6 separate regions of the Homo sapiens genome follow, and all the other regions are linked to region 1. The links come from fine-mapping of genetic effects on gene expression. A gene starts in region 1. Each other region holds a variant in brackets. All regions are shown on one strand. Distances are between the middles of the regions.

Region 1 (4,089 bases):
GAGAATTAAAACTTCCACCATCGCGCGGGGGAACCATAAAAACAATCAAACCCTTTTTCTCCCTACATCTAAACTAATAAGTCTACAGACGCAGAAAAGGAGGACGAAGTTCTCTTATTTACAGAAAAAAAAAAAAGGAGTTGAGTGCAAAGTGCCTACAGTACTTATTCTCTCAATGACTAACATTATGACTATCTGCCCATAAAAAGATCTGCATAAAAAATGCTGCAGTGTGTCTATCACCAAACAATGTATCATTTATACTGCAAAAGTTGTAGAAGGAGGGTAGGCAGCTTATAAATACTCACCAGCAGACAGTGGGCAAAGTCAGGACCTCCCACTAGGCCAGTGAAATTTCCCAGCTGCTCAGCAAGAGCTAATAGTACCTCATCTTCATCATAAATTGTATCTGGAAGTGACAACAACAGGACTCATCAACATGGATAGCTCTCCCACAGCTGGACACTGACACAAAACTAGGAACAGATTCACTATGCGACCAGGAAGGTGACCCAGTCAAAATCCTAACAGCATTTTCTTTCTTCTCAACCGTCTTCCTGTATCTGCTTTGCACAACGAATTAGAAATTCATACTCCCGTATCAATTACTTTCAATAGCTAAATGGTTGATGTTTGAATATATCTAGCCACAACTAACAATATACTCTGTTCTGTTTCTTTTGCACAAAAAACACCTGGCTCATTTTAATGTGGGTAATAAACTCTAAAAAAGTCAGTGTTGAAAGCTACTGGAAAATGGAATGTCCCTACCTTTCTTTAAACAAAGATTCACATACCTGTAAGAAATGGCAACAATTCACTTCGGGTCCTTTCTACTCCAAGTGCTAGGGCAATTGTTGATAACTTCTTAATACTGTTGAGTCGGAGCTTCAGAAAAGAAAGTAGAAAGAAGAACAATGTAAAGAAACGGCTGAATTTAGATCAAAAGACAAAAGGTGCTAACAGGTGAAATTATGACACAGGGGTAAGAATGAAGATAACCTTTCATTTAGATTTTACTGTTAAGGAAGCTCATAAGGACTTCCAAAAAGAAGTGTAACTCGGCCTCACTAGCCGGCGGAGGATTTCCCAGGAGAAACACTCAGAAGGGACCGGAAGAGAAATGAAGGAAAGACAATACAACACCTAGGAAGTAAGATAATTTTAAAAAGAGAGCACTTTGGCAGTGGTGAAGCAGGTGAAACGGTTGAATACAACACCTGTGGTTTCAAAGAAAAGTTCCCACAGAGCGGATACACTACTCGTCCAGATTAATCGGCCATCCCACCCCCGCTTTCTACCCAACAAGCCGAGCCAGTTCCAAGCCGAGATGAAGGGATCCAGGGGCACTTCAAAGGGCTTCTGGGCATCCTGCGCCCCTCAGCCGCTCCAGCCCCGTCTCGGCCTGGCACCGCGCTTCTCCTGCTCCCTCGCCCAAGAGACGCGGCCACCTCACGGCCCGGATGGGGCGCCCAGGCGGGAAGCGGGTTCCCCGACAACCGCCCGGGAAGGGCAAGGCTCCGGGCGGACGCCTCAGGGGGTCCGAAGCAAGGTTACTAGAGAGGTACCCGGGAGGGTCGGGGCGTGTCACCACAGCCCCTCGCGGAGCATTCCCCGCCTCCCCTTCAAGTTTCTGCTACGAGTCCGACTCATTCAGTACCTCGGCCACCCCCACCGCGACGCAGGCCTTCCCCCTTCTCTACCACGCGACCAGCCGGTCTCGCCTCGGGTCCCCGGCCTCAGTCCAGTACCTGCACGTCTTCATTGCGGAGCTCGTCGATTAAAACCGCGATCGGGTATAGCGAATCATCTCCATCTCCACCCGCTGCTCCTGGGCCGGTCCCGAGCTCTGATGCGCCCGCCATGTTCTTTCTCCTCCTGCTGCTGGTCACCGCCTCCCGCCCCGCGCCCAGGCCCCGCCCCGCGCCCAGGCAGTAGGGACGAAGGCCGCCACGCTGGTTTAGCCGAAGTTGGGGAGCCGCGTTTCTGTCCCGATGATTAAGGCTCCCTTCTGACCCCCACTGCAGGAGTTGTAGGTCTGAACTCAAGAAGACGGGTGGGCTAAGAAAGCGAATGGAACCCCTGCGTCCTTTCCCCAGCCGAAAGAAACAGGGACAGGGATTCATCCAGCTCGTTGTAGTCTGAAGGAGCCAGGAACCTACCTGAATGATCTGCGCTGTGCCCTCTTAAGACTCAGGCGGACCAAAGAGAGTGCCCGAGGCCAGGAGGAAAAAGGCTTTAGCACCTCCCCTGACTTCTTCCTGGCCCTGAGCCACTGGATCTCCAGCCCTAATTTCTCCGCTCAGACTCAAACTTCCACAGAACCCCTCCACCTCTTCCCGCGGCTCTTTCTCCAGAATGGTATCTGGCTCCTGCTCCGTAAGACAAATAACGCGGGCGGTGAGAGAAAATGAACAGTGCTGTCCAAACTCCCCAGTCAATATTTTTTCCACGCAAGCTGTTAAAAACATGCTGCTCTCTTGTTTTTGTGTTTCTTTTCAGTTTGGTACTGGAATGGTGCCTTCTGTTGTATTTTCTTCCTCCCATTTTTTAGCTCTTTAGCATGCTAGAAGTACAACAATGAAGCAAAACTAGGACAAGCTTTAATCCTTCCAAATTGGGTGGGGTGGCTACTTTCTTGAGCAAGAAAACCCAAACTGGCCTCCCTAGACCTCCAAGAGTCCTCAGAGGCAGCAAGGGGAAGAGGTGGAGGTCTGGGAGCTCGTTCTTACAAACCTGAATGGAAAGTTTTCACTTACCCCTGTCAGGGTAGCACAGAATAATTAGAATGTTTTGTTTGTTTTAGACTGGAATTTAAGCAGCTTGGAGTGATAACTACATATGGTGATCACAAGCTCCGAAATGGTAATTCTATGTGCCTGATTAATAAAACTATAAATGCAGTGTAGGAGACAAACTTTTTTAAAACATGGGATTCTGAGGCCGAGGCGGGCGGATCACTTGAGGCCAGGAGTTCGAGACCAGCCTGGCCAACTTGGTGAAACCCTGTCTCCACTAAAAAATACAAAAATTAGCTGGGCTGGTGACGGGAGCCTGTAGTCCCAGCTACTCGGGAGGCTGACATGAGAATCGCTTGAGCCCGGGAGGCAGAGGTTGCAGTGAGCCAGGATCGCACCACTGTACTCCAATCTGGGCGGCAGAGTGAGACCCCGTCTCTAAAATAAATAAATAAATAAATAGCGTTCTTGGAAGTAAGCACAATAGAGCCTTTGAATGAATGAATGAAATAATGAATAAATAAATAAATAAATAAATAAATAAATAAATAAATAAATGGGGTTCTTGGAAGTAAGCACAATAGCTAGAGCCTTTGATAGTAATGAAAGTTTGGGAACCAGCAGACCTGAACAGTTTTTCTCAAATTATGTCTGCGAATGTATTCTCTAGGGTTTTAATTTTATTTTCATTTTCATATTTTTTAGATTTGTATAAGCATATTCTGAATTATTTGGGTGACCACCTTACAACCAAGTATTGCCACACAATTTCAGCACCCACATTTACATGTGTGTTTTAGTGCTGCTTTTATTGTTCTGGGATAATGAGAAAAGAACAGAGGTGGTTTTAAAATGACAATGATACTTTCATGCACAAAATGAAAGCCAAATGCATCATGAGATTGCACTATTTGGTAGTTGTAACAGAAAAATGGTGAGAAAATTAAGATATCAGGAGTCACTTGGTGGCATAGGCATGTTGAACACAAAAGAAGCTGAGCTATAGCAGGCAACACCATAGTAACAATACGACGGATGACAGTTTTAGCAAAATACATCATTTGTCACGTTAAATTACTATAATATTTTTAATTGAATAGTATTCATTTTGTGGTTTCATTTGTATTTAATTTGTAAATTTGTTGTGGTTTTTTTTTAGCTGTGTAAGAACTAGAAATAAAAGCACATTTTTCCTACTTTATATTCGTAAATTTAAATAACCACAGCATAATAAAAACAATTTAGCTAAACATGGTAACGCGTGCCTGTCTTCCCAGTTACTTGGGAGGCTGAGGTGGGAGGATCACTTGAGCCTAGGGGTTCATGACCATCCTAGACAACACAGCAAGAC
Region 2 (4,089 bases), 120 kb before region 1:
ATTTTCCTCTTTAGTTTGATCTAGTCTGTTGTAAATCACAAAATATTCCCAGTTGCTAGTCCATCAGTTCCTTTTGTTCTTGTGTGACTGTTAATTAATTTTCTTTCATTTCCAGGAATTGATGTAGGAGAGAAAACTAGCTGGTTCCCAGTCTGCTATCTTGAAACAGGCAGAATAATCTCTTTTGCCCTGCCTATGCACAATCATTTTAAGATAGATTTGCTTTTCATTAAATATTGGGGGTTCTTAAAATGTAAATATCCAGCTTTGTTCTTAAAATGTAAACATAAAATAACATTTAATGTTTAAATGTTAAACATTAAATAGTATAACATTTTCTCTTTGTTTCTTTATCCCATTATGAACCATTTATTTGGCCCTTCATTCAAGAAATAATGACTGGGTTTCCTGTCTTGGTATTTGAGGAGGAGGGTACTATCTAAGGGAGAATTAAAAACACTTAGAACTATGCTATACTATGCTATAAGTGCTACGGGAAACTATGAGAAAAGTTCTTTAGAAAGTCAGAAGAAACAGGCAATTTTTTTTTTTTTTTTTTTTTTTTTTTTTTGAGATGGAGTCTCACTTTGTAGCCCAGGCTTGAGTGCAGTGGCGCGATCTCAGCTCACTGCAAGCTCCGCCTCCCGGGTTCACGCCATTCTTCTGCCTCAGCCTTCCGAGTAGCTGGGACTACAGGCCCCCGCTACCACCCTCGGCTAATTTTTTGTATTTTTAGTAGAGACGGGGTTTCACCATGTTAGACAGGATGGTCTGCAAATATAGTATTTGTAGGCATAAAGTTACAAACTCGGTGCCAGTATAGCATCTGGTAAAGGCCTCAGTGAACTAATGGCGAAATTTACCTCCTTTTTAGTCCTCACCCTCTTTAACTTCACTGCAGCAACTTGACTCTTAGCATGCATTCTCTTTTTTTCTTGGAAATTGCCTTTTGTGACTGTTTTCTTTTCCTACTTTTAAGACCATTGTCTATCTCATTTTCCTGTCCTGTAAGAGAAGGAGTTCTATGCATTCCCTCACTGAGCTCTGTATTCCCAAGGCTTCAGGCCTCTAGGCAGATGAACCTCAAATCCATAACCTGAGCCTTTACGTTTCCCTAAATTCCAGGTCCCTACTTACTGACTTGTTGAAAAGAAAATTACAAACTGGGCACATTACCTTCTTCTCCTCCTAAATAAGCTCTTCCCATATTCAAAATTCTGTTAGCAGTTTGACCATTCATTCTTCTTCTGACCCTGAATTACCTTGGACTCATTCTTTTTTATATCTAATTAGTTGCTTAGTCTTACAGATTTTTCTTTGAAATATCTTATTTTCTGCTTTTGTTTACTTTATATTTTCTGCTTTTGTTTACTTTATATTTTCATTGCCTTAACCCTAATTTAGTCCCTCATTAATTCATTTTCAGCTCATGATTAGGATCCCAAGTGGTTTCTTGCCTCTTTATTTCCCTTATCAGTCTTTCCTGTGCACAGATTTTCACTTTATTTCTTAAAAATCTTCTGCAGTTCCTCCTTGCCTACCAACTTCTTTGGCACTTAAGACCTTTTATAGTGTAGACCTAGCTCTTTTTTCCAATTTCATTTCCTGTTATTCCCTATGTGTACCGTATGAGAGACAATGGGCTTTGGAATCACAGACTGGGATTCTTGTCCCAGCTCAGCCATTATTTAACTGTGTGCATAAGTAACTTTGGAAGAGTCGCTTACCTTTTCTGAGTCTCAGGTTCTCATTTGTAAAATAGTTGATGTATGAATAAGGTAAACTAAAATTTCTGGTACTACAGTACCAGACTTAGTAAATGTTAATCTCTTCTTTCACTTTCCTCAGGTCAGTTTGGTTGCCCTGTTCTTGGAATGCTCCATGTTTTCCTACACTTTTGCCATCACCCTTCTGAACGGTTTTTCACTCCCAGCACTTCTGACACCAAATGCGGAGGGTGGAGGG[G/A]CTCCCTCCACACCAACCAATTTTCCAGTACCAACTGAGTGTCCTAGAATTCATTTCAATTCTGATACTAACTACGCAGAGCTAGCCTCAGATGTGATAGGTTTAAGGGCTCATTCCCACAAGACTGCCCTCACATCAGAGGCCAGTTGCAAGTAGCAGGTTTCCAGGTTACCCACACCTTCCGTCCCACTTGACTACAAAGTTGGGAATTCCCATGACTCTCTACTCAGGTTCTATAATTTGCTAGCACGTCTCACAGAACCTAGGAAAACAGTTTACTTACATGCACTGGTTTATTATAAAGAATACAACTCAGAAACAGCCAAACGGAAGAAATACATAGAGCAAGGTATAGGGGGAGGGCAGAGCTTCCATGCCTCTGGGATGCCACCCTCCCAGCACCTCAGTGTGTTCAACAACTTGGAACCTCTCCAAAACCTGTCTGTGGGGTATTTATGGAGGTCTCATTACATAGGCATGATTGAGTACATCATTGGCCTTTGATGATTAACTCAATCTCCAACCCCCATCCCCTCTCTAGATTCCCAGAGGTGGAACTGAAGGTACCAACCCGCTAGTCACATGGTTGGTTCCTCTAGCAACCAGTGTCCATCCTGAAGTGTCTGGGGACTCACCACTAGTCACCTCATTAGCATAAACTCTAGTGTGGTTGAAAGGGGCTTGTTACAAGTAACAAAAGATATTCCTGTCACTTAGGAATACCATAGGTTTTAGAAGCTCTCTGTTTGGAAGTGGAGACAAAGACCAAATATATATTCTTATTGTTGCAACTCTATAATTCCCTCACCCTTATTTTCACCAGGCAAAATTTCTTCGTTTTTTTTATAGCTCAGTTCAGATTTCACTTTATTTGTGAAACCTTCTCATCTGTCCGCTAGTTAAAAGAGGCCTTTCTTTCATTCTCATGGTTTTGTCTATTGTAAAGTACTATTATTATTGGTTTATGTATCTTTCTTCAACCCACTGTGATTTTCTTGAGGGCAGGATCTATTTCTTATTCATTTACTATATCCTCAACCCCTAGTAAAGTGCTTTTGCACATCCTAGGCATTAAGTAACTAAATGATGAGTAGGATTTGTTTTGCTTTAAAAATTTATTATATTTTAGGGAAGGGAACAACACACACCAGGGCCTGTTGGAAGGTTGGGGGCGAGGGGAGGGAGAGTATCAGGACAAATAGCTAATGCATGCAGGGCTTAAAACCTAGATGATGGGTTGATAAATGCAGCAAACCACCATGGCACACGTATACCTATGTAACAAACCTGTACGTTCTGCCATTGTATCCCAGAACTTAAAAAAAAAAAAGTTAATTATATTTGAAAATGTAGAGTAGACAGGCAATCATTGCAAATGTATAGGCTGGGCACGGTGGCTCACGCCTGTAATCCCAACATTTTGGGAGGCCGAGACTGGCAGATCACCTGAGGTTAAGAGTTCAAGACCAGCCTGGCCAACATGGTGAAACCCCGTCTCTACTAAAAATACAAAAATTAGCTGGGCATGGTGGTGCGCGCCTGTACTCCCAGCTACTCAGGAGGCTGAGAGGCAGGAAAATCCCTTGGACCTGGGAGGCAGAGGTTGCAGTGAGCCAAGATCACACCATTGCACTCAAGCCTGGGTGACAAAAAAAAAAAAAAGAACTGTTCATTGGGCGTTTTAGAATTAGCTAGGCATGGTGCTGTGCAGCTGTAGCCCCAGCTACTCATGAGGCTTAGGTGGGAGGATCACTTGAGCCCAGGAGGTCGAGGCTACAGTGAGCTGTGATTGTGCCACTGCACTCCAGTTGGGGTGACAGAGTGGGACCCTATCTCAAAAAAAAGAAAGAAAGAAAAGAGGCCAGGCGTGGTGGCTAACACCTGTAATCCCAGCATTTTGGAAGGCTGAGGCGAGCGGATCACGAGGTCAGGAGTCCGAGAACAGCCTGGCCAACATAGTGAAACCCCATCTCTACTAAAAATACAAAAAAAATTAGCCGGGCATGGTGACTTGTGCCAGTAGTCCCAGCTACTTGGGAGGCTGAGGCAGGAGAATCACTTGAACCCAGGAGGCGGAGGTTGTGGTGAGCCGAGATCACGCCACTGCACTCCAGCCTGGCGACA
Region 3 (4,089 bases), 69 kb after region 1:
ACAGAACCTTTACACTTATTCACTCCTAATTCTTGATTAGCCCAGAGGTAAAGAAAATAGTGAAATAAAAAAAGTCATACAACTTTCCTCGTTTCCATGCACAATAGAAACGGGACAGGCTGGAGCACTTAGCATTGAAGCCAAAGGCTGGCTAAAACCTGCCACCCAGAGCTAAAGGTCCATGCCTAATTTTCATGATTCTGCCACCACAGATAAGCAAAAAAATCCTCGCATTCAAAGGGCTGGACACAGCTGCTACCCAGCAGACATAAATCACTTGTTTTTCCCTGCTTTTATCAGCCAGCATTTTGGTGACTCCTACTGGCATCCTGAAAAATCATCACCTTTCGGGTAAAGCTCATATAGAGTCATTTAATCAAATTTAACACTGTCTGACAGCAGAGAATATGGAAATATGATCTAACTAAGACAACCAGTGATAAAAGCCTAAGAAATGTGCAAAAGGCCACTGTAGATTTTCTAGCCAGCTTTCTCTCAACATCATTACCACAATGACGATGAATATTCATTATCCACTGAGAAAGCATGTAAAAGTGAACTACTGGGTACATGACACCGTCCTAGACACTATGGTGAACACAAAAGAAACAAAGTGCAGTCATTCTCTTCATGGCATTCACATATTTGATGTGGAAAGATATGATATCAGAAATATTTAACTAAGACCAAGAAAATTAAATGGCTAAATGAACTGCACAGATAAATACTGAAGACACTTAAAGGAAGGTCTGCTCAATATGGACTTAAATAGTTCACTTCAAAGAGGAAGATAATTTTGATAGTGTGAGAAGAGACACAAGGGTAGTTCAGGCATAGTCACCAATATAAGCGAAGTCACTGGGGTGGAAAACGCAATGATGAGTCTGGAGACACTGGAATAAAATTACAAGGATGGGAAACAATAAAAAGAAGGAAGGGGAGAGATTGGGTTTCTTTACCTGGAATCTGTCTAATATACCATTATCAGATTAAGAACACTTGTGCAAGCATAAGAACATTGCATTTTTGCTACAGAGAGATATAATATCAAATATCATAATTCCAAAGTAGGTGCCATTTTACAGACAGAAACTGAAATTAAACAGAGAAGCTAACTAATTTGCCCAAGGTTATCAAGTTTAGCAACAGAGCTGAGGTTTGAATGCAGGCCTACTCAACTCCAAAGTCCACGCTCTTTTTTTTACTACTCCATTTTTACTACCTCTTCCTAAAGCAAAGCTCCGATAACATCACTCTGAATTCATACTGTCCCCCTATGACAGTGTATTTTCCCACCCTTTGACTGTCCAGCTTCTCTAGAATGATGCCCTGCACTCAGGAGACTCATATCTGCAGATAAAATTAAAATGACCTGTAACAGTCTACCCTGCCCAAGGGTATTTCCATTGTAACAGGAATCAGAGCCTTAAATTAAAAGAATAAAGCTCTAATACAATCCATGTGGCAGAAACGCCTGTCTTACAAGGGAACAGCTCAAGGCTGTGTCTTTAAGTGTCCATTTTCATAGCTTATAGTTACAGCTCATACAATAAGAATCTCACTCATAAACCCTGAGGGTCTCCATGGAACTCTAACCAGCCCCAATCTGGGAGACAAAAGACCAGATGTGGCTGCAGGTTTGCTTCAGAAGAGAATTGGAAGTCTTGCTATTTTACATTTTAAGCATATGACATAAGAAAATGTAAATTAAATATAGCTGACATTTAAACTGTTACATATTTCTTTAACGGACAGGTTATCAGGTTATCAAAAAATGTGCTTTCTAATAATTCTAGACAACGATCTTACACTGTCTTTGTGACCCAAAAGGAGCATTATCTTTATTACTTCTTACCTTTTTCATTATCAAAGATTTCACAGGTATCAAATGTCAAAAGTGTCATCTTTCAAAGGAACTGAAGTAAAATTCGCATGG[G/T]ATCTCAGAATGTGTAAAGACAAGTAGGGAGAAGATCATGGCCCTGACAGAGGCTGCTCCCTGGCATTCAGTATGGAAACAGTCTTTACTGTTCATTTGTTAAAACCGGAATATACTAATAGCTAGGTCAAAGGTCCACCTGATAACTTGAAAGTTCCTCATTAAGGATTTTAATAGGCCAAGGAATGATATGAGTTTCAGAATAATGGTTCAAACTTCTACCGTAAGAAAACTTTCAGCCTACCCAAAACCTTCAAAATTAAATTATACATTTTACATAGAAAATAAAGAGGTTAATTTGAAAATAAAAGTGATACTGTTTACTGTTTTTCAACAAAAGCTGTTATACCCCTCATCCTAAAAAATATCCGGTTTTTTTCTGAGACAGGGTCTCACTCTGTTGCCCAGGCTGGAGTGCAGTAGCGGAATCATGGCCTACTGCAGCCTTGAACTCCGAGGCTCAAGTGATCCTCCTGCCTCAGCCTTCTGAAAGGCTGGGATTACAGGCATAAGCCACCACACCTGGCTTATTTTTTAATTTTTTGTAGAAATGTGATCTTGCTATGTTGCCCAGGCTGGTCTCGAACTTCTGAATTCAAGCAATTATCCCGCCCGTCTCCCAAAGTGCTGGGATTACAGGTGTGAGCCACAGCACCCGGCCTTAAAAAAATTGCTTTCTAAGAAATTCTCATTTTATCAATGCTCTAATATACACACCAACAGACTTTTAGGCATAGAATTCTTTTCAGAGAAGCAAGAAGAGAATGTAGCCCTTACATATCTGGATGGCTCTTCTAGATTCTGGTCATTCATGTCAGTAGGAACAATCCGGGTGGCCAGAGGTCCTTCTGCAAAAGGTTTTGGTAACTGACCTCTGAACTCTGATGGAATGAACTGAAGCTGCCAACTGTCAGAAACACAAGGAGAATAAGAAAAACACAGGGGGATAATATTGCTAAATGTACTTGAAACAAACAAGCCAGGAAAATCATGTGAAAAACATTTCTCTTGAAGAAAAAATATTTCTGCTAAAACCTCAACCAGGGAGCACAGAGGCAGAGGTCACAAGTCAGTCCAAAATCATTGAGAAATTTATAATTAGATGTCTCTTGACCCATTTCACCAACTGTTAGCAGTGAAATTCACAACCAAATGGTCATATCATCAAAAAACCAGAGAAGTGCCAATGCTTATTGTCAATTACTATGTGGGCAGAGAGACTTATCAAATAAAGCAAATTATCAGGTGTAGAGAAAAAGAATGAAATGTAATATATGGCACTGAGAACACACTATGGGAGAAATACTTTGTTCCGGAGTAACCCTCAAACATATCTTTATCTATAAAACTATTTCAAACGTAAAAGGCAAAGGCTAAAGTCAACACTTAAAAAACAAGTTTTAATTTAATCATTAATGACTGACACAGGGTCTTTATGAAGCATAAGAAACTACTACCCAGTAAAGCCAAGCTACTGAAGCCATTTCTCAAATGGAGCAACATGACTCATCTTAACCAGATTTCCCTTTAACCTACACAGGACTCTTCTCTGGCCAAATGAAGCAAACTACAAAGAACTTTAGGGCCTATGCTCTCAGAACCACAGAAAGCATAAAGGAAACTGGTATAGACATTTTAACCACAGCCTTCCCCAGTGTCCACATAATGGTGGAGAACTTTCACTACTGTTGGGTCAAGAATGTCTTCTCTCTTCTAGCTGGAGTTTCTAGACCACTTTTAGAAGAGGATTAACATCAGATCATTATAGAAATGTAAATATGAATCCCCACGAAGAGCCACTGGCAAAAGCCTAGGACCCAGGGCATTTTCAGAAGTCCCCAGACACCTGCAGTTATGGGCAGTGCAGAATGTCTACCTAGACCCAGCCCTCAGCCTAATAAGCCTAATGAACACAGGAGGCAGGTACACAGTACACAGGCCCCACAGCTCTCCGACGTGGTAGATAATTCAATAACTCTCTGTGAAAACTCCAAAAGAAAACAAAAATTAGAAGACACTGATATAGAACTGCTCTATTTACTCCTTCATTTAAAACCCTAGGAATTAAAGGACAACTTACTTGTCAGGAAGAAGGAAGCTGCTGGGAAATCGATACCACTCTTTTCCCACACAGACATTCACAGGTCTGCCTT
Region 4 (4,089 bases), 33 kb after region 1:
GGACTACTGCATGTACTATATGCCTCTTCTGTAAGAAATCACCTTTAAAAAGAAAAGTTTCAAAGTTTATCCAATTTGGATGGAGAACGGCATTGCAAGATAAGTAGTGGCTTTAAAGCATGTCCATACTTCTTTGACACTCCTCCCATCAACAGGGGAAGTCTACTTCTTTTCCCCTTGAGCATGAGCTATTCAACTGGCTTGCTGCCAACAAACAGAATGAGGAGGAAGTGATACTGTGTGACTTCCAAGGCTAGGTCATAAAAAATTATGCAGGTCTTGAGATGCTTACTCTTGGAAGTCAGCCACCATGCTATAAGGAAGCCCAAGCCACATAAAGAAGACACATAGGTGTTCTGGCTGACAGCCCCAGCTGAGATCTAGCCAAGAGCCAGCATCCAGACATATGAGTGAGAAAGCCACTCAGCTGCCTCCAGCCCCAGCCACTATCTGATGGCTAATGCATTACAGATCCTGAGTAAGAACTGGCCAGTTGAGCCCATCAACTCCCAGAACCACGAGAAGAAACAATAATCAACTATTGTTGTTTTACGCCACTAAGTATGGATGACTGTTACACAGCAATAGCTGGAACAAATGCTTCTGGCTAATTTGCCCTTTACAGTAATCACTCCAGTCGTCTTATCTTCCATAGAGAAATAGTTCTGCTTATGCTGGAGCTAAGGGCTGGCTCCCTTCAACCAGATTACTCTCTACAACATAGGACAAAAATGAATATAAGTGCAATGGACTCTGTAGGCCTCAGAGCTGCTGGGTTCACCTCTTAGAGGGTAAAAGGAGAGCCATGGTCTTAGTAAAGTCCCCAGAACAGCTAAAGTTCAGTGGCCACTGAGAATCCTACGTAGGCACTGAAAGAACATAATAAGCGTATATGATATCAGCACAGTCCCCAACTTGCCCTTTGACTAGAAAAGGCCCCTCTCCTGCCATACCAGCTAAAGGTTCAACATCTAACTCCTTATTTGTATTTACTCTTCATCTATAATTGCCTGGCCAACATGGTGAAACCCTGTCTCTACAAAAAACACAAAAATCAGTTAGGTGTGGTAGTCCGTGCCTGCAGTCCCACCTACTTGGGAGACTGAGATGGGAGGATGGCTTGAGTCCAGGAGGTGGAGGTTGCAGTGAACAGAGATTGTGTCACTGCACTCTAGCCTGGGCAACAGAGCGAGACCCTGTCTTAAAAAGAAAAAAATAGAGAAAAATAAAATCTCACAATCCCCAAACTAAAGGTGAAAGCAGAGCAAGCAAGACAAAAGGGACATATAATGAAGGAGGACAGTGGGTGGAAAGTGGCTGTGCAAAGCACTGACAGGGCCTCCCAACTTGTTTCCGAAGCTACAAACAGGCCCTGTTGCTCATGAAGCCAACTCCAATATCCTGGAGAGGCATTTCCCACCAGACTCCCACAACCAAACATCTCTCAGCACACTTAGATAGGCACCCACCACTGAGCTGGTGATTTATTGCAACACTCTCCCTTCACTCCTCTCTGGGGACTCTCAGAGTAGGCATTACATCTGCCCACTTGTCAGCTATTTCATTCATGTAACAATTATATCATGCTTCAAAGAAAAAAAAATCTTTTATTTTAGAAAGTATGTAATATGAGATGGCCACAGAGTAACAAATGTGTCTGGTCTAAAAAGTGATATTGTCAAATAGTTTAGACTCCGCATCCTAAGAGTTTGATAAACCTTTATAAAATTAGCCAGAGAGACATGGCAAACTCAGGGAATGGAAGTTGCAGTTCTGGTACTAGTTGTGTGAGCAGGGACTAGAACGTGTTGATTAAGATCTTATGCCTGGATCTTCTCTCAAACTAATGGGGTCTGGGGTTTGTAGGCCTCTAATAAGGCAAAGAAGCAGCCAATTAGGAAAAGAAGTGAACGAACATCTGGGCTGTCATTCTCCCAAATGGTCTAACACCACTTAGCCTTATTTAGTAAGTACTTCTCCATCACTCCAACAATAAGGATGTTGCTTATCTTGCAACAATTTCAACAGGCTTCTTCATACATTCACAGACATGTGGAATTCCTAAATTTGCCCCAATCACAAAATTGTCCCAATCATCTTTAGGTTGCAACTCCCTGAAGTGGAAACTCCAATTACATATAACTCACAGTATAATTTTTTTTTGTATTGAGACAGTCTCGCTCTGTCACCAGGCTGGAATGCAGTGGTGCGATCTCGGCTCACTGCAACCTCCACCTCCCGGGTTCAAGTGATTCTCCTGCTTCAGCCTCCCGAGTAGCTGGGACTACAGGCATGCACCACCACGCCCAGCTAATTTTTGTATTTTTAGTAGAGA[T/C]GGGGTTTCACTATGGCCAGGATGGTCTCAATCTCTTCACCTATGATCCGCTCGCCTTGGCCTCCCAAAGTCCTGGGATTACAGGCATGAGCCACCGTGCCCGGCTGATTCCTTTTTTTTTTTTTTTTTAAACAAACAAACAAACATGCTGGTACTGCCTTCAAACTACCCTGATTGCTTCTCTTTCAGACAGCTGAGGCCCAATCTAGGCCACAATAATAAGAATTGTCAGCAAGTTAAATCAAATAAGTAAACCATGGGCAAATCCACATAGTAAATGGACTATGGAACAAAGAAAATATATCTATGTATCTTCTTTCTCCCATCCTGCTTTTTGGAACAAGTCTCTTTGCTCGGGTCACATTAAAGCAAGATGACCATATATTTCAATTTATCCAGGACAGGACCCCTTTTACTTTCAAAAGACTTCTGATGTGGATGATACATTATAGATTACCTTACATAAAAGCAAATTCAAACCAGCCAAAGAGGTAAATAGAACTTTTTGATGCTGACTAATGGGCCCCTCATCCAACAGGCATTTTATATCTTTCCACTTTTACTCATGATTGCTTCTTGAATTAAATAAGTGGTTCTTCCCTCCTTACCACCAGTACTTATTTAATCCTACTTTTCTTCAGCTCAAGCACCCCCTCCTTCTGGAAGCCTTCTAAGTGTACTCTAATCTCCACAGGTCCCTCCTTTCTTTAAAGTTCTAGCACATGATTTGGTGCCTCTATGGTCTTAACACTATTTTCAAGTTGTTTTCATATGTGTAGGTCTTCCTGCAAAAGTTGTAAGTTATTCAAGGGAAAAGCCTGTGTCTAATCACTTCCTTTATGTGCCTTAAAGAATCTAACTCTAGGCCGGGTGTGGTGGCTCACACCTGTAATCCCAGCACTTTGGGAGGCTGAGGCAGGCGGATCATGAGGTCAGGAGATTGAGACCATCCTGGCTAACATGGTAAAACCCTGTCTCTACTAAAAAATACAAAAAATCAGCCAGGCATGGTGGCACGCGCCTGTAGTCCCAGCTACTCGGGAGGCTGAGGCAGGAGAATCACTTGAACCCAGGAGGCAGAGGTTGCAGTGAGCCAAGGTCATGCCACTGCACTCCAGCCTGGGTGACAGAGCGAGACTCCGTCTCAAAAAATAAAAAATAAAATAAAATAAAAAAGAATCTAACTCTATAACAAGGGCATACCAGATATTCAGTAAATACTTTCTGATCTCCAAACCTGCCTAACCAGCTGACTTAAGAACATACCAGGAAAACTCCAGGTGTCTCCCCACTGCTCACTCCTCTTGCAACACCCTGTACTTTCCTCTTACAACACATAACACATTTTGTAATTACCTATTGATTTGTGTGGCTATTTGTTTAAGGTCAGCCTCACCATTGTATCGTAAGGTCCAAGAGGACAGCGACCTGGTATGTACTGTTATTTATCCCTGTCTACCTATGATTTATCATAGTGCCTGGCAATGTTCAATAAATATTTGCTAACTGGAGATGAGTGATGGGTGGACAGACAGACAATGGAAGAAAGAACAAATGATCTGAGAAAAACCATAAAAAAAGCAGGGTTAGATTTTAGGAACTTAAACATTTGAGAAATTAACCTACTTACATTTCTAAACAAATCATGTGGCTATGTGTCATAGGCCTATTAAAACCTTTTTCTTTTCTCAGAAAGAGCTAGAGAATAGTGAGGTGTGCAGCCCCATCTTATCTAGGGTCTAAGACGTAAATGA
Region 5 (4,089 bases), 41 kb before region 1:
TAGGTTTAAGAGACCCAACACAATTGGTTCCCATTCCCACTTGTTTTTGCTGACATGAGAGAGACTTAAGTAGAAGACTGAAGCTAGTGACTGGTATTGCATTTACATTAAAATTGCCATCACTTGAGAAGATTTAAAATTCTTTCCTTTGATATTACCAATTTAGGCTCCAGCAGAAGCGACTCTTTCTTCAGAAGCAGTCTCAACTGCAGGCCTATTTTAATCAGATGCAGATAGCAGAGAGCTCCTACCCACAGCCAAGTCAGCAGCTGCCCCTTCCCCGCCAGGAGACTCCACCGCCTTCTCAGCAGGCCCCACCGTTCAGCCTGACCCAGCCCCTGAGCCCCGTCCTGGAGCCTTCCTCCGAGCAGATGCAATACAGCCCTTTCCTCAGCCAGTACCAAGAGATGCAGCTTCAGCCCCTGCCCTCCACTTCCGGTCCCCGGGCTGCTCCTCCTCTGCCCACGCAGCTACAGCAGCAGCAGCCGCCACCGCCACCACCCCCTCCACCACCACGACAGCCAGGAGCTGCCCCAGCCCCCTTACAGTTCTCCTATCAGACTTGTGAGCTGCCAAGCGCTGCTTCCCCTGCGCCAGACTATCCCACTCCCTGTCAGTATCCTGTGGATGGAGCCCAGCAGAGCGACCTAACGGGGCCAGACTGTCCCAGAAGCCCAGGACTGCAAGAGGCCCCCTCCAGCTACGACCCACTAGCCCTCTCTGAGCTACCTGGACTCTTTGATTGTGAAATGCTAGACGCTGTGGATCCACAACACAACGGGTATGTCCTGGTGAATTAGTCTCAGCACAGGAATTGAGGTGGGTCAGGTGAAGGAAGAGTGTATGTTCCTATTTTTATTCCAGCCTTTTAAATTTAAAGCTTATTTTCTTGCCCTCTCCCTAACGGGGAGAAATCGAGCCACCCAACTGGAATCAGAGGGTCTGGCTGGGGTGGATGTTGCTTCCTCCTGGTTCTGCCCCACCACAAAGTTTTCTGTGGCAAGTGCTGGAACATAGTTGTAGGCTGAGGCTCCTGCCCTTCGGTCGAGTGGAGCAAGCTCTCGAGGGCAGCACTGACAAATGTGTTCCTAAGAAGACATTCAGACCCAGGTGTTATGCAGGATTACATCCGTTTATTATCAAGGGCAACCTTGGTGAAAGCAGAAAGGGTGTGTGCTATTGCATATATATGGGGGAAAAGGCAATATATTTTTCACTGAAGCTGAGCAACCACATATTGCTACAAGGCAAATCAAGAAGACATCAGGAAATCAGATGCACAGGAAATAAAGGAAAGCTGTGCTTTGTCATTGAATCCTAAGTTCTTAGCTGCTGATGCAAGTTGTCCCCCAAGGCCATCACAAAGCAGTGGGGCATGAGCTGTGTTTCAGGGGCCACTAAATAACAGCTGGTACTGACCCCAGAAACCGCCTTCATCTCCATTCGGAAGCAGGTGACACACCCCTTCAGAAGGTGCCCTGGGTTGCCGAGTGTCAGAATATACTCAGGACTCCAGAGGTGTCACACGTGGAACTGACAGGAGACCCGCCACCGTGGAGGCAGGGGGCAAGAAACTCAAGAACGCATCAAGAGCACCAGCCCTGGGCCAGGGAAGACAGGCTCTTCCTGCAGTTTCTCGTGGACACTGCTGGCTTGCGGGCAGTCGGTCTCCAGGGTACCTGTTGTCTCTTTTCC[G/A]ATGTAATAACTACTTTGACCTTACACTATATGTTGCTAGTAGTTTATTGAGCTTTGTATATTTGGACAGTTTCATATAGGGCTTAGAGATTTTAAGGACATGATAAATGAACTTTTCTGTCCCATGTGAAGTGGTAGTGCGGTGCCTTTCCCCCAGATCATGCTTTAATTCTTTCTTTTCTGTAGAAACCAACAGTTTCCATTTATGTCAATGCTAAATCCAAAGTCACTTCAGAGTTTGTTTTCCACCATGTGGGAATCAGCATTCTTAATTTCGTTAAAGTTTTGACTTGTAATGAAATGTTCAAGTATTACAGCAATATTCAAAGAAAGAACCACAGATGTGTTAACCATTTAAGCAGATCATCTGCCAAACATTATATTACTAATAAAACTTAACCAACACTTACAATTCAGTCATCAAAGTAAGTAAAAATTAGATGCTACAGCTAGCTAACTGTATCCCTAGAAATGATGAATAATTTGCCATTTGGACAGTTAACATCCAGGTGTTACAAAGTCAGTGTTAATTCTAAAGATGATCATTTCTGCCCTTTAGAATGGCTTGTCCCATCAGCAGATGAATGTGTTAAGCACAAAGCATCTTCCTTAAAGCACAAAGAGAGGGACTAACTGATGCTGCATCTAGAAAACACCTTTAAGTTGCCTTTCCTCTTTGTAGTTAGCGTTCAGGCAGGTGACGTGTGGAAAGTCTAGGGGGTTCCATTCTGGCCATGCGAGCCCAGCTCCTACCAACGTCGGTAACTTGAGCAGTCCCTGTTGCTGGCCAGAGACTGCCTGGTCGCCAGCGCTCACCATGGGTGCCAGGATGCTTCGCAGAGGCACTGTGCTCACGGTTGGACTTGGTGTCAGTGGGAAAGGGCAGTGTGGGGACTGTCATTTTTGTGATTTAATAACACACAGTGAAAATCCAGGAAGAATGAATTAAGCTTCTTCTGGGAGTTGTTTATTCCTGCTCGTGCTTAAGATTGATGATTTCGTGAAATAAAGAACATCATTTCATTTAAGAGATCATTTCATTAAGATCTCTAATCTGTTTTGAGTCTTTACAAAATAGCCAGTTATAAAATGGGGCTTGATTTGTTTAGACTGAAGGAAGACGTTTTCCCAAAATATACTACAGAAGTGCTACAATATTTGCGATATTAAAATGCCTGCAGATTGAAAATGGGGGCCACTCATTTCAGAACTGCAGGAATGGTGTAGTTACAGATCGACATAAACTCCTGCCCCCCAACAATGCCATGAGCTGCTTAGCCCAGGAGACCTGGGAGCTATGGCAGGACGGTTAGGCCAGCCGATGAGGGACTGCAGAGAGGCTACTGGAAGGTTAAGGACCCAGAGAGAAATCGAGAGGTGCCCTACAGCAGCCAGGCCTATCAGGATCCGTCACACACGGCAGCGGCGTGGACACCGGCCTGATGCAGAGCGTGACCCCTCCTGCTGGGACCTGTGTTGTAAGCTCCTATTTGCTTATCTTGTTTATTTCAAGCAGAAATCAATAAATTCCATAACCCTCTGTATTGACTGCAATGTAAGCTGCTGAGGAGACTGGTTCTGTTGGTCAGTCAGGTGTTTGCTCAGCCCTGTCTGATCACCTGTGCTGCTCTGTCCCTAACTAGTGACCCATGGAAGCTTCCAAGCAGTTTTCTCTTCATCACTACTAACAAACAAAACACTAAGAAGGCTTAGTATCGCTCTTTTTCTGCGGGGCTACTCTGAAGTACTGACTTGCTTTCCAGTCTGATTCACGTTAGCAGTGTGTACACTACTGTATCATCATCAGCTTCATCACCCTGTAAACCAGGCTCCTCTGAAGAGACTTTGGTGAGATGAACGTGAGGTAAAAATTTCGTTCGGCAAAAAGTGCAATATGTGTGGTACTTTATTTTTTATGTTCTTTTTTTAAATCTGGGGTATTAGTCTGTGCTTTGGGAGAAATGCACTAGCTCTGCAATTCCCAGCTGGGCAAGTGTGTCTCTAGTATCTCCACGCAACTGATACACTGGTCCCTGTAAGGCAAACAGCATGTTAGCCCGACAGGAAGAGGGGGCCCACTTTCACATTCCCGGTGACACTGACCGTCCCCAGCTGCCCCCTCGCCACCTCTGCCTGCACTGCCTTCTGTCACCGTGGGAAAAGGAGGCTGATGGTTCTCTACACCATCCACCTTGAGAATCCCTGCGTGGGAGAGCATCAGGGCCCACCAGGGGAGTGGGGATGGGGCTCAGGGGCTGTTCATGCCCATCTGAGCAAACCCCTTCTCTCTTCCATCCACTTTTGCCTCCTAGGAAAGAAAAAGTCAGTGGCCCTTTCTTCCTCAGATATCAAGAACTCCCAAGTGTTTAAACCGTATGCTGGAGTCAGTGGTTG
Region 6 (4,089 bases), 230 kb before region 1:
TTTCTAAGAAGAAAGTGTGTTAGATGTGACATTGACGTATTCTAACTGGGACAGAAGGAAGGTCTATAAATGATCTTGCCATAAAGGTCAGGCCTCATCCTGCCACAACCGCTGTTAGCTGTTACGTGCCGCAGCAGAGCTCCCCCATAGTCTCAGCTGATACTGAAATTCATCCCACTCCCCTCTCACCCCCAGCCTGTATTCAGGCTGTTTGTTTAGAATTGCAGTGGCTAGAGGCCTTAGAAGCATCACTGCTTTCTTGGCTGTTTTGAAAAGCAGAAAGAGTACGTAAGAAGCAGCAAGCTGGAACCAAAATCCAGAGGTCGTGGCCCAGATGGGGCTTCTGCTATGCTTCACAGCAGCATGGTGTGGCAGAAAAGGCAGAAAGTCAGATTCACCTTCTGCTACTTAGTGCCTTAATCTTTGGACAGATGGCTCACTCTATTGCTTGACTATATTTAAAAGCATTTTGTTTACGAAACCAAAGTGAAACACACCTACTTTGGGAGTTTACAAGAGGAAGCACACATTGAGGGCTAGGTTAGGAAAGCTTTTCCTGAGATAATAGTTTCATTCTTTCCTGCGGGGCGAGGGGCCAAAGCTGAACTCCCTAACTATGACCCCCACCTCCCAACCTGTTCCCTGCAAAAAACAGAATCATTTCCTTCCAGGGATCTGGGACATCTTTTGGCTTCTGGTAGAAGCCGCTTTCCTTTCAGTCGGGAGGGCTCCAACTCAGCCAAGTTCTTTGGATGCCATCCGCGCGGTGTCCCATAACTTTCCTGGCCGGTGGGCACACTGCCTGCGTGAGTGTTTGTTCTCTGCATCGACCATTCCCTGCTCAGGCGTCGCCCTTCGTGCTGGGACTGCGGCCTGCTGAGCCCCAGGTAGGAGTCCACGCATCGCCTCTCTCTCCAGGTGCACCCGCACAGCTGGCGAACTTGGCTAAGGTCAGCGGGAGAGGAGGGGTGAGATGTGGTGCTAGTTTTAGGCACACTGTGCTCGTTATCAGATTGCCTAGGGGCCCGACTGAAGTATTCCTCCGCCCAGCGCCTCGGGCAAACGCGGGATCTCCCAGGGAAGCTCGGAGGGGGACAGGGAGCTGGTTCCCCTCTGCGACTCGCCCCTCTCTGGCTGGCCGAGTGTCTGGCGCCAACCTCGCTGGAGGAGGCTGTCGGGGGCGGGCCAGCCAGCGGGGCTGCCCTCCTCGCAGTGACGTCCCAGGGGGCGGAGGGGCGACCGACTGACTCCGCGCCCTCCCCCCCGCCTCCCGTGCGGTCCGTCGGTGGCCTAGAGATGCTGCTGCCGCGGTTGCAGTTGTCGCGCACGCCTCTGCCCGCCAGCCCGCTCCACCGCCGTAGCGCCCGAGTGTCGGGGGGCGCACCCGAGTCGGGCCATGAGGCCGGGAACCGCGCTACAGGCCGTGCTGCTGGCCGTGCTGCTGGTGGGGCTGCGGGCCGCGACGGGTCGCCTGCTGAGTGGTGAGTGCGCGCGCTGGGGCGGGGGCTGGTGCCGGGGTGGGCTCACTGCACCCCAGCTGCTGCTGACCCTCTTCTGGGTCGCCACGTATGGGACTAGAAGGCCGTCCCATGCCCCACTCCCAGACGCAGCCCTTCGGAGTCTCTTGCGTTCTGGGGGCAGTCGCACGGCGTCTGAGACCCACGCCAGTTCCCGGAGCTGCGCAGTTCCCTGCGCGTCCTGGAACGCTCGAAGCCCGTTCCCAGTCCAGAGTTATGGGGGTGGGTTGGAGAATGTAGGAGAGGTGGGGCAGTGGGCAAACCTGCCCCAGTGGGTGCCCCTTCGGCCCGCTCCTTTACACGCATCGAATCAGTCCTTGGGACCACCCCCGCGGGGCAGGCTTGCCAGCTGGCCCCCGCCTACCGCCCGCTCCGGGAGGCGGCCGCAGAGACAGCGGGGTAGGGATGCTGGATCCCCGGTGCCGTGGGAACCCTGCCTGTTACTCCTCGTCTCTTCTGCGGGGTTGGATGGCTGGGTCGAGCGCCCGGTATGAGAGCGCTTAGAGATCGGGAAAGAACTCCAGTTAGTGTGGGACGAGCCCCACCTGACTCCGGGGAATGACTCTCTGCTTCCTTCCTCCTGTTGTGTCACTGCAGCCTCGGATTTGGACCTCAGAGGAGGTAAAGTGCTCTGGCTTCTGGCTTCTTTCAGTTGTTCTGCATGTCGGGGGGAGAACATCCGTGCCCTTTTCTCAGATCCTTTTTGCGGGTGCCAACAGCTTGACCAAACGGGACAGAGGAGACTGGGAACCTCCTCTACTCTGGCATCCTGGCTTGCGAAACTAATTTAAAGAATGTAAAGTTGGTTTCAGGATGGGGGCGGGGCGGCAAAAGAGGTGGGAAGCTGAATTGAGCTGCTTGGGTTAGGGCTGCGTGGGCTCTGTCCTTGGTCGCGGGGAACAGAAGGCCCTCCCACCCTTCGCCTTCCTGCAAATGAGAAGAGAAGGACACTTCCTGAAGGCAGGAGAACCAGATAGGCCCGCGGGC[C/G]TCCTTCCAGCTCTGACGGTCTCTGGCACTCACCCGCAGACTTCGGATGTGTGGCCAGGCTGGACCATACAGGAAACTCGCTTAAGGTGTTATGTTTCCCTTGACAATCCAACATGGAAAGTGGGGGTTGTCAGGAAATTCAACTCCAGCTTATGTTATGCCGGTGGCCAGGTTGGATAAGTTCCTGGGGGCTCATTTGCCCCTCCTCTGCTGCCCAATTTGGAGCCAGCTTTGAGGAATCGCAAAAGCGTGGCTGGCCCAGCCCCCTTCCCGGGGGTATCCCTGCCTCAGCCTCTCTGAATACCTTCTTGCAAGCAGGTCTGGCTTTTGAACCCTCCTAATGTGCTGCTGGACCAGTCTAATTAGAGTTTCTCTATTATCAGCAATAGCCAAATAATGACAGGAAAAGGGAGAAGATGTGGAACTCTTATAACTTGTTGCTCATTGAGAATTCCTTTATGAAAGTGATGAGAGAAGAAATAGAAAATGAAGACTCACTGGAGCTTTCTGGATAATCTGTATGTGCTCTTTCTCATTTAGCACTAATCATATAGTTCTATCTGTCTGTGGCCCCTTGCCCTATATGCTGGCCAGTGTTGGGAATTAATGAATGCTATCTGGCTCCCTGCGCAGCTGTAAAACAAGTTGGGAAAACAAGAACATTCCAGAAGTTCTGGGAGGAGGTTCCCAAACCAAAATATTTTACCCCCGGCACTGTGGCAGCAGTTCGCACCCACAGCCCACAATTTGGCTTTCTCTTTGCAGGGGGACTACTCCCCGTGTTGATACGTGGTTTTCACTTTGAACATTTGAATCCGGAAACATATGCTGTGTGCTCCTGTGGGTTAGGAAGTAGCTTTTGTTCCTGTATTCCCAGCACCTCGCACAGTGCCAGGCACAAAGTGTACACTCAATAAATGTTGATTGAATGAAAGGAGTGATGAGGCTAGTGTCTCCATTGCAGCAAGGCTTCAGTCACACAGACGCAAGCTAGAGCAGTGTGTACTGTGAGCGATTTGTTATTGGCTCCTCAGTAAAATCCCATCTGTTTGTCTGAGATGATCTTCAGCCCTTCAGGGGACAGACTGATAAGACACATTACATAGGCTCCCAGTAAAACATGAGCCTGGGGTGCAGCGGGGAGCTAGCAATTTAGTTCACTGGTACCAGCATGATTTTGTAATTAGATCTGGGCTCTAACTCCGGTGATGCTGATGATCACTGTGTGATCTTGGCCAAATTACTTAACTTCCCTGAGCTCCAGTTTTCTCATTTGTAAAATAAGCCATAAACAGTATCTGCATCAGGGGACTATTATGAGGGTTACATGAGATAAAGTATGTAAGTAAATGTTAAGCCCTTACCATAGTTTATGGCACATAGTAGGAGTTCAGTAAACCTTAACTGTTGTCTTTAGGTCAGAGGGCTGACTGTCAGTAGCAGAAAACCCCGTGGATCTGATGCTTTTAGCTTCTGCTTACACCAGAGACTGGGCAAATTCTCAGTCCTGCTGCACAGGCAGAGGGTTCCAGAATAGAGGAGCCCATGCCTGACTTCAGGAAGCCTCTCTTACCTTAAAGAACCA

Alleles and levels. Positions count from the first base shown, and alleles are read on the strand shown. Sizes are in standard deviations (SD) of each study's normalised expression. Not every link is listed here.
As copies of T replace C in region 4, the expression in tibial nerve of the gene that starts at base 1,893 in region 1 goes up (small effect, 0.38 SD a copy in GTEx).

What was found. PIP is the estimated chance that this variant, and not a neighbour inherited with it, causes the effect.
Region 2: its variant is the best candidate, but not a certain one, in a credible set for the expression of PPP2R1B in nucleus accumbens (GTEx, PIP 0.72).
Region 3: its variant is the best candidate, but not a certain one, in a credible set for the expression of PPP2R1B in tibial nerve (GTEx, PIP 0.82).
Region 4: its variant is the best candidate, but not a certain one, in a credible set for the expression of PPP2R1B in tibial nerve (GTEx, PIP 0.57).
Region 5: its variant is the best candidate, but not a certain one, in a credible set for the expression of PPP2R1B in thyroid (GTEx, PIP 0.89).
Region 6: its variant is the best candidate, but not a certain one, in a credible set for the expression of PPP2R1B in ovary (GTEx, PIP 0.83).

What each region holds. Positions count from the first base shown.
Region 1 is chr11:111,764,497-111,768,585 of GRCh38, forward strand. PPP2R1B (protein phosphatase 2 scaffold subunit Abeta) reads right to left here and starts at 1,893. Exons shown (of 15, transcript NM_002716.5): 1 at 1,752-1,893; 2 at 798-888; 3 at 309-409. The coding sequence starts at 1,865. It also overlaps a transcript of ALG9 not described here. RefSeq lists enhancers at 919-1,822, 1,709-1,888, 1,909-1,958.
Region 2 is chr11:111,640,182-111,644,270 of GRCh38, forward strand. The region is part of intron 3 of SIK2 (salt inducible kinase 2); the gene reads left to right. Among named protein-coding and RNA genes, the nearest start is that of SIK2, 40 kb to the left of the region's middle. The variant G/A (reference allele first, on the strand shown) is at 1,966.
Region 3 is chr11:111,833,452-111,837,540 of GRCh38, forward strand. ALG9 (ALG9 alpha-1,2-mannosyltransferase) reads right to left here. Exons shown (of 15, transcript NM_024740.2): 12 at 4,017-4,089; 13 at 2,714-2,843. Among named protein-coding and RNA genes, the nearest start is that of ALG9, 36 kb to the right of the region's middle. The variant G/T (reference allele first, on the strand shown) is at 1,937.
Region 4 is chr11:111,797,000-111,801,088 of GRCh38, forward strand. The region is part of intron 14 of ALG9 (ALG9 alpha-1,2-mannosyltransferase); the gene reads right to left. It overlaps LOC124902756 (a long non-coding RNA gene), which reads left to right. Exons shown (of 2, transcript XR_007062891.1): 2 at 1-4,089. Among named protein-coding and RNA genes, the nearest start is that of PPP2R1B, 33 kb to the left of the region's middle. RefSeq lists a silencer at 210-289. The variant T/C (reference allele first, on the strand shown) is at 2,336.
Region 5 is chr11:111,723,330-111,727,418 of GRCh38, forward strand. SIK2 (salt inducible kinase 2) reads left to right here. Exons shown (of 15, transcript NM_015191.3): 15 at 167-4,089. The coding sequence ends at 800. It also overlaps a transcript of PPP2R1B not described here. Among named protein-coding and RNA genes, the nearest start is that of PPP2R1B, 41 kb to the right of the region's middle. RefSeq lists an enhancer at 1-513. The variant G/A (reference allele first, on the strand shown) is at 1,696.
Region 6 is chr11:111,539,448-111,543,536 of GRCh38, forward strand. LAYN (layilin) reads left to right here and starts at 1,273. Exons shown (of 7, transcript NM_178834.5): 1 at 1,273-1,481. The coding sequence starts at 1,397. RefSeq lists an enhancer at 376-1,055. The variant C/G (reference allele first, on the strand shown) is at 2,505.